Regions from separate parts of the Homo sapiens genome. Here all the other regions are linked to region 1. The links come from fine-mapping of genetic effects on gene expression. A gene starts in region 1. Each other region holds a variant in brackets. All regions are shown on one strand. Distances are between the middles of the regions. Region 1 holds the start of CA11 (carbonic anhydrase 11). Region 2 overlaps FAM83E (family with sequence similarity 83 member E). Region 3 overlaps FAM83E (family with sequence similarity 83 member E).

What was found.
Region 2: its variant is fine-mapped to the expression of CA11 in whole blood (INTERVAL, PIP 0.99).
Region 3: its variant is fine-mapped to the expression of CA11 in whole blood (TOPMed, PIP above 0.99).

What each region holds. Positions count from the first base shown.
Region 1 is chr19:48,644,621-48,647,371 of GRCh38, forward strand. It overlaps CA11 (carbonic anhydrase 11), which reads right to left and starts at 1,567. Exons shown (of 9, transcript NM_001217.5): 1 at 946-1,567; 2 at 783-857. The coding sequence starts at 1,012. It also overlaps the pseudogene SEC1P. RefSeq lists enhancers at 1-196, 197-897, 898-1,598 and silencers at 1,556-1,745, 1,776-2,185.
Region 2 is chr19:48,611,901-48,614,651 of GRCh38, forward strand. FAM83E (family with sequence similarity 83 member E) reads right to left here. Exons shown (of 7, transcript NM_017708.4): 3 at 1,008-2,727. The coding sequence starts at 1,472. Among named protein-coding and RNA genes, the nearest start is that of FAM83E, 1.8 kb to the right of the region's middle. RefSeq lists a silencer at 2,111-2,287 and enhancers at 2,592-2,751, 2,660-2,709, 2,730-2,751. The variant A/G (reference allele first, on the strand shown) is at 1,281.
Region 3 is chr19:48,607,151-48,609,901 of GRCh38, forward strand. FAM83E (family with sequence similarity 83 member E) reads right to left here. Exons shown (of 7, transcript NM_017708.4): 5 at 2,726-2,751. SPACA4 (sperm acrosome associated 4) reads left to right here. Exons shown (of 1, transcript NM_133498.3): 1 at 1-564. The coding sequence ends at 203. Among named protein-coding and RNA genes, the nearest start is that of SPACA4, 1.8 kb to the left of the region's middle. The variant C/T (reference allele first, on the strand shown) is at 1,355.

The DNA of each region.
Region 1 (2,751 bases):
TCCCAGGGCTGGTATCTGCTGAGTGGGCTGTGGTCTGGACTCCCAGATCCCAGGGGAGGAGGGGCTAGGGACCTAGACTCCTGGGTCTGAGGGAGGACTGGGCTCAGATCCAGAATTCTGGGTCCTAGAAGAATCTTGGAATAGTTTCCAAGTTTAGCAGAGACGGGTTTCACCAAGTTGGCCAGGCTGGTCTTGAACTCCTGACCACAGGTAATCCACCCACCTCGGCCTCCTAAAGTGCTGGGATTTCAAGCGTGAGCCACCGCGCCCAGCCGATCAAACCCATCTTAAGCCACTGTAGATGGAACTACAACTCCCAGCAGGCCCCAGTGCTACCAGCCTACCCCTCTGCTGCCTACCTGCCCCAGAGCCCCGTGGGAGTTGTAGTTCTTTTTTTTAATCGCTCTTATCCCACAGCTGGATTATTATTAATGTGTTGGGGAGAGGAGCTGCAAGAGAAGGCTGGACAAGGTGGGGGACGGGGCCACCCAGCCTCTGGTTCCTAGCAGGAGCCAGGACCTTCCTCTCCCGGCAAACACACACATAATCTCCACCCCCACACTTTCCTTCCACTCACTCCCACTCACTACTTGAAATGCGCATGTATAATGTCCCATGGTGAGCCCCTGGGGTTCAGAAGCTGGCCCGACTCCTGAGGGACAGAGGAGGGGGCTGGGACTCCTGGTCCTGGGGGGGAGGAGGGAGCTGGGAACCCAGGTTCCTGAGTCTGAAGAAGGAGGCGCCGGGAGGGCCGGACTCCTGGGTCCCCGCCTTGGCGGCACCTGGCACGAAGTTTCCCTGGAGATTATCCTTGTAGCTCCACCAGTCCTCGGGGTCAGGTGCTGGTCCGATGTGAGCTGGGAAGAGAGCAGCCTGAATCCCTCTCCTTGGCATCCCCACCTCCACCCTCCCTCGGGGGCTCCTCCCGGGAACCCCAGGTCTTACCTGCTGCCCCCAGTGCAGCCCAGAGTACCAGCGCTCGAGGGGCGCTCAGACGAGCTGCAGCCCCCATCCCCAGGAGGCCTCCGAGGGACCCCTGCCCAACGCCCTGCCCCCCTCTCTCAGCTCCTCTGTCCCCTCCTTCTGGGACCCTGTCCCTCCAGGACTTCCAGCTTTCCTCTCCTCCCCACAGGGAGTCCCAGTTCCCCAAATGCCAAAGCAGCCAGGGACTGAGATCCGCCCTTCAAACCCACTCTTCTTCTCTCTCCCGTCTCTCTGTGTCTTTCCTCTTTCCTCTGCTCTTTTCCCGGAACCCTCCAGTCTCCCTCTAGCTCCTGATCTTCCTACTCCTCTCAGCCTTCTGCTGCCCCCAGGGCTACCTCTTGGTTCCTAACCCACACCTCCTCTCCGTTCTCTTTTCATTAAGCTCTCCCAAGCCACCTAACTCCAGGTCTCCATCCCGCATCTCCTCCTCCTCCTCCCTCTCTCCTTTCCAGCTCCTGCCTCTTCTCCCCTCTCTCCTTCTTCACCTCCTCCCGCCCTCCCTCAGTGTCGGCCTCCAGCTTCGTGCTCTCCCCACCTCCTCCTCTCCTGCCTCTTCTCCCTGTTTCAGTCTCTCTTCTCTCTTGTCCCTTCCTCCCTCCTCCCCCTCCCTCTCTCCTCTCCCGTGGTGTTATTTAATTTTGTTGTTGGGCTGGGGGAGCAGGTGATCTCATAGCGGCAAACACTCCTCGGGTTGGCTTGGGGTGGGATGTGCGAAAGGGCAGGATTCGGAAGGAGGTAGGGGGCTGGTCCTCGGCTCCCAGCCGCGCTGGGGCCACGCGGGCGGGGGTGGCCGGGACACCTGGGGCCGGGAGCAGGCTGTTTCCATCCTCCGCAGCAAGGGGAAGGGGGGGCGCTTAAGGTGGAGCTGGGAGTGGCTTCGGAAGTCTCCATGCTGGGGGCCGCCGGCCTTGGCGGATGCAGGGTCCCCCTGCTCGCTGGGACCCAGGTTGGAGCCGCCCCAGCGCCCGCAGCCCCCCTTCCCCGCCCCAGGGCTCCACTGGGTCTCTGCCTGGGGCTGCCTTAACGGGGCCGGGGGATCCCCTAGGAGCCTGAAGTGCAGTGAGGGCTGCTCGCCTGGAGGGGGAGGCAGAGACCTGGCGAGGGAGAGAGGGGCGGGGAGGAGGAGCCGGGAGGGCAGAGGCGGAGAGCGGGAGGTGAGGACCCACATCTGCGTAGGCTGGGGAGGGGAAGGGAGCCTGAGATGGATACGGAGAGGAAGGGCGGAGGGACAGAAGGTTAGAGAGGCAAGAACAAACCGCCAGGCAGGAGTGAGGAGGAGGGGGAGGAGGTGAAGGAGGAGGGGGAGGAGGGAGAGGAGGGGGAGGGAGAGGAGGGGGAGGAGGGAGAGGAGGAGGGGGAGGGAGAGAGGAAGGAATGAATGAGAGAGATACAGATAGAGGCAGAAAAGGAGATACAGAGACGCAGCGAGACAGACATGGAGACATAGAGACACACACTTAGAGATAGACAGAAACTCAGAGACCAAGCAGCAGATGGGGTGGGGAGAGACAAAAAGAGAGAAAGAGCGATCCAAAGACAGAGAGAGACACCACATTTTTGTATTTGGGGAGAAGAGATGGGGTCATGCTATGTTGCTCAGGCTAGTCTCAAACTCCTGTCCTCAAGGGATCCTCCCACCTTGGCCTCCCAAAGCATTGAGATTACAGGCATGAACAACCATACCCAGCCTCAGAGAGACCACATATTACTGTTGTTGTTGTTATTTATTATTTTTCACCCCGTCTAATGGTAGTGAAACTGCTCATT
Region 2 (2,751 bases), 33 kb before region 1:
GGTCCTGTGGAATTTTCTGGGTGCTGGGTGCAGGACGGCTGACCTGCTAGGCCACCGTGGCGAACTTGGGGGACACGGAGGTGCTGAAGGCCTGGATCTTGCAGGCAGCATAAAGCAGTGGAAACCCTGACTCAGCAGCCAGACAGCCTGGGTTCAAATCCCCACTCGGCCACTTACAGGGAAGAGATTTAACCGCCCCCGTGCCTCCGTGGGCACAATAGTCCCTCTGGCGGTACAGGGTTCCGGGACGATGATGCACATTAGTCCCTGAGAAACCCTTCACGTGGGAGCTGGCGGACGCTAAGGCTGTGAAGTACACAGCAGGCTTTCCAAGGGCTGCAGTGTGGACATCTGGGCCTTCCTTGGAGGGAGAGTGGAAACCCCTGGCTTGGTGATGAGGGGATGGGGGAATGACTGAGACTGGGGGTGTCATAATTAGGTTCAAGGGGCATCGATACCTAAGGGCATCCAGGTCTTGGGGGAGGGTAGGGGCCCCCATTTCTTTCTTTTTTTTTTTTTATTGAGATGGAGTCTCGCTCTGTCGCCCAGGCTGAAGTGCAGTGGCTTGATCTTGGCTCACTGCAACCTCCGCCTCCCGGGTTCAAGCAATTCTGCTTCCTCAGCCTCCCGAGTAGCTGGGACTACAGGCGCCCACACCATGCCCGGCTAATTTTTGTATTTTTAGTACAGACGGGGTTTCACTATGTTGGCCAGGCTGGTCTCAAACTCCTGACCTCGTGATCCGTCCACCTCGGCCTCCCAAAGTGCTGGAATTACAGGCGTGAGCCACCGCGCCCGGCCGGGCCCCCCTTTCTGAGAGTAAGGATGAGGTCTGGGGTTGTAGGCACCTGAGTCCTGGGGCTGGAAGGTGTGCACTCCTGGGTCCCAGGGGTATAGGTCCTTTAGGGTAGGGGTGTGCGCTTGCAAGTCCCAGGAGGACAAGGGAGAGAATGCCTGGGTCCCCGTCCCAGTCTGGTGAATGGACACAGGGCCCCCGCGACACCCACCTTGTGGGCAGCCTGGATCTCCAGCCGCACCAGCTCCTTGAGGGGCGGCTGACCCTCTCCAGGAGGCTGGGTGTACAGCTGCGCCCGGGTGATGCCTTTCCACGCAGAGTCCACTGGCCAGCCCAGCCGCAGGACGGGCGCCGGCTGCTCCGACTGCCCAGGCCAGTAGCTCAGGCTGCCCGCGTCCACATCGGTGGTGGTGGCTCCCTCTGCCATCCCGCTGGGCTCCTGCTTGGCCACTGTCCAGTCTTCAGCTGCCGCTGCCAAGCCCTG[A/G]ACCTCATCCGCACTGAGGAAGGGCCACAGCTCCTCGCGCTGCACGCAGGTCTGGAACGCCTCCGCGCCCTTGCTCAACAGAGCCTCCAGTGCCAGCCGCTGGCCCTCGGAATATAGAAAGCCGGGGCTGGCCCCGGGCACCCTGGGACCGGAGTCCACTCCTTCCAGCGCCGCCAGCTGGGAGGCCGCCATCGGGGTCACTCGGGTGGGAGGACTGACTGTGAGAGGCTGGGTCCCCGGGGGTCTGGCTGTCTCTGGGGACTGTGATCATCTGGGGGTTCTCCTGATAGGCAGACCCTACGTGGCCATCCGAGGCCTCCGGCGGGGCCCTGCAGATGTCCAAATGGCTCCCTGCAGCAGCCCCTGCCACACTGTTCTGACAATCACGCTGCCCAAATAAGCGACCATCCAATGTGTCAGGCCACTCAGATCCGCCACCTGCCTGCACCCAGTGGCACCATGCCTGGCTGGCCTTCCGTGACCTTCCTGCCAGCCGTCTCTGCTGGTCAGGTTGACCTCCTGACACCATCCCCAACTGTGTGACCCATCAGCTGGCCATCTCTGCTCAGCCACACGACAGCCTCCAACCCACCAGTCACACAGTGCCCAGTCAGACCCTTCAGCTGTCCTGAATTTGGTCAGGCTGACCACTTGATCATTTCCAGGCGGCAAGCTGCCTGCCTGTCTCTAATCACCCAAAGGTCCTTAAAGGCACGACAGGTTGCCTGCCTGCCCCCGGCCAAGAGCACGACGAACTGACCCTCTCCTTCCACTGTCTGGCAAACGCCAATGGCTTCCGACTGACAGTCACAGTATCTGCCTGTTGGAGCATCTGTCTCTGGCCAAATCTGACAGCCCCCACGAGTTTCTCCTGCTCATCAGCTCTCACCCGCAGACCAGCCAGGATGCCTCTCCACTGGGCCTGCTCGCTCAGCCTTAAAGGCCGAAGGCTTGGCAAACCCTTCCCTACCCTGTCAATGGGGGACCCTGCTCCCTGGACCCTCCTCACACTCCTTCCAGCTGCTGCAGTGGAGGGTGAAATGCGCTACAGGGGTCTCCATTACTATGGGACAGGTCTATGATCTTCACAGCCCATCTAGGTGTGAGTGCCACCTAACCAGCCACCCTCCTCAGGCTGGCTGCCCCTGCCTGGGGCCTGGCCCTGGGACCTGTTCCAGGCCGTCCTCTGATCTGCGGGGAGCCCTACCCAAGCTGCCCCCAGCCTGGTTTCTGCCTAAATGCTATCTCCTGCCAGCTACCCGGACGCTTCTTCCCGGACAGGGGCCAGTCTCTATCTCGCCCTGTCTCCCTCCCAAGCCTCAGTTATCCCCTTGAGGCTCCTGACCCAACCTCGGGGACCCTGGACCCTTGATCCCTGCAAACCAGAAGCCCTTCATTCCAATCCCACCAACCCAGGCCGCTGCTTCCTCCAGACCACAGCAGGGAGCTGCAAAGAGAAGAAAGGAGTCAA
Region 3 (2,751 bases), 37 kb before region 1:
GTCCGGTCATCAACAAAGGCTGCCTGCGAGCCACCAGCTGCGGCCTTGAGGAACCCGTCAGCTACAGGGGCGTCACCTACAGCCTCACCACCAACTGCTGCACCGGCCGCCTGTGTAACAGAGCCCCGAGCAGCCAGACAGTGGGGGCCACCACCAGCCTGGCACTGGGGCTGGGTATGCTGCTTCCTCCACGTTTGCTGTGACCAACAGGGAGGACAGGGCCTGGGACTGTTCTCCCAGATCCGCCACTCCCCATGTCCCCATGTCCTTCCCCCACTAAATGGCCAGAGAGGCCCTGGACAACCTCTTGCGGCCCTGGCTTCATCCCTTCTAAGGCTGTCCACCAGGAGCCCGGTGCTAGGGGAAGCATCCCCAGGCCTGACTGAGCGGCAGGGGAGCACGGCCCGTGGGTTTGATTGTATTACTCTGTTCCACTGGTTCTAAGACGCAGAGCTTCTCACATCTCAATCAGGATGCTTCTCTCCATTGGTAGCACTTTAGAGTCCATGAAATATGGTAAAAAATATATATATATCATAATAAATGACAGCTGATGTTCATGGAGCATTCTTTGTTTTCTTTTCTTTTTCTTTTCCTTTTTTTTTTTTTCTTTTTGTAGAGATAAGGTCCAGCTATGTTGCCCAGGGTGGTCTCGGATTCTTGGGCTCAAGTGATCCTCCCACCTCAGCCTCCCAAAGTGCTGGGATTACAGGTATGAGCCACGGCACCTGGCCAAGCCTGTCTTACGTTACGTGCCACTGAATCCTCACACCAAGCTGGGAAGGTAAACACTCTTTCAAACATTTCAAACATCCTGGTCTCAACTCCAATCATTCTCAAAGTGTGGTCCCTGGACCAGAAACAGCAGCAGCAGCAAGTGGGAACTTCCTGAAAATGCAGATTCTCAGGTCCTGTTCCAGGCACGATGAATGGCAGTGGGGTCCAAAAGCTGTGTATTGTTCTCTCTTTTTCTTTTTGAAACAGGGTTTTGCTCTGCTGCCCAGGCTGGAGTGCAGTGGTGCAATCTTGGCTCATTGCAGCCTCTACCTCCTGGGCTCAAGCAATCCTCCCACCTCAGCCTCCTGAGTAGCTGGGACTAGAAGCATGCTCCATCATGTCTAATTTTTATTTTTTTAAATTTTTGTAGAGATGGGGTCCTGCTATGTTGCCCAGGCTGGTCTTGAAGTCCTGGGCTCAAGCGATCCTCCTGCCTCAGCCTCCCAAAGTGCTGGGACTACAGACATGAACCACCACGCCTGGCCTTTTTCCGTTTTCTTTTTCTTTTCCTTTTTTTTTTTTTTTTTTATTTTTTGAGACAGAGTCTCGCTCGGTCACCCAGGCTTTAGTGCAGTGG[C/T]GCGATCTTGGCTCACTGCAACCTCCACCTCCCAGGTTCTAGCGATTCTCCTGCCTCAGCCTCCCGAGTAGCTGGGACTAGAGATGCATTCCACCAGGCCCGGCTGATTTTTTGTATTTTTAGTAGAGACAGGGTTTCCCCATGTTAATCAGGCTGGTCTGAAACTCCTGACCTCGGGTGATCCACCTGCCTCGGCCTCCCAAAGTGCTGGGATTACAGGTGTGAGCCACCACGCCCAGCCCAAAAGCTGTGTTTTAACAAGCGCTCCCAGGGATTCTGGTGCATGCACAGGGTTGAAAGCCACTGTTCCTGAGCAGTGTTCTCAGCTGGGCACCTGTGCTCCCCAGTGGGCATCTGCGCTGTCTGGAGAGGTTTTCGGTTCTCTAATTGGCAGGGAAAGTCGGGGGTATGGGGCGTGTGATGCTACTGACCTCTGCTGGGTGGAGGCTGAAGATGCCGAGGAGCCTCCCACAATGCACCCAACAGCTCCTAAAACAAAGACTTACCCAGCCCGAGCGTGGGTGCCACCCCTGTTGAGGGACCTGGTTCTAGAGGCTCTAACCCTATCAGCCCATGACATAGAGGGGGAAACTGAGGCACAGAGAGGTGAAGTAAGTTGCCTGAAGTCACACAACGAGGAACTGAGAGAGCTAGAATTTGAATCCAGGCCGTCTGGTCCCAGAGGCCACACCCCTCTCCTCCCTAGCTGTGCTGTGACCCTGTGAGGTAGGTGCTGTTATTATTTGCAGTTTCTTTCTTTCTTTTTTTTTTTTTTTTTTTTTTGCTTTTTTGAGATGGAGTCTTGCTCTGTCTCCCAGGCTGGAGTGCGACAGCGCGATCTCGGCTCACTGCAACCTCTCTCCTGGGTTCAAGCAATTCTCCTGCCTCAACCTCCCAAGTAGCTGGGAAGACAGGGTTTCACCATGTTGGCCAGACTGGTCTTGAACTCCTGACCTCAGCCAATCTGCCCGCCTCAGCCTCTCAAAGTGCTGGGATTACAGGCGTGAGCCACCATGTCCGGGCATTTTCTTAGATGCTCAGAGAGGTGGAGTTATTTACCCGAGGCAGAGCTTAGATCCCAATCCAGGTGCTCCTGATTTTGAACAAACCCCACCCCCAAACTGTTTGCCCAGTTTTCCAGATAAGAAAACACCAGGTCAAAGAGAAGCAGACTTACCCAAGACCACTAAACAGGCCAGCACCAGGTCCGGCCGCGGCACCAACCTCCTCCGCAGGGAAGAGTGTTTTGCCCCCATTACACAGATGAGAAAAGAGAGGCCTGGGCAAGGGGATGCCAGCTGTTCTCTGAGCACACTGAGGGAAAGTGGGGTATAGGACGCCGGGAGGTGGGGGGCGGGGCGGGGGCTACACCTGTAGGATCCTGAGATGACCCTCTC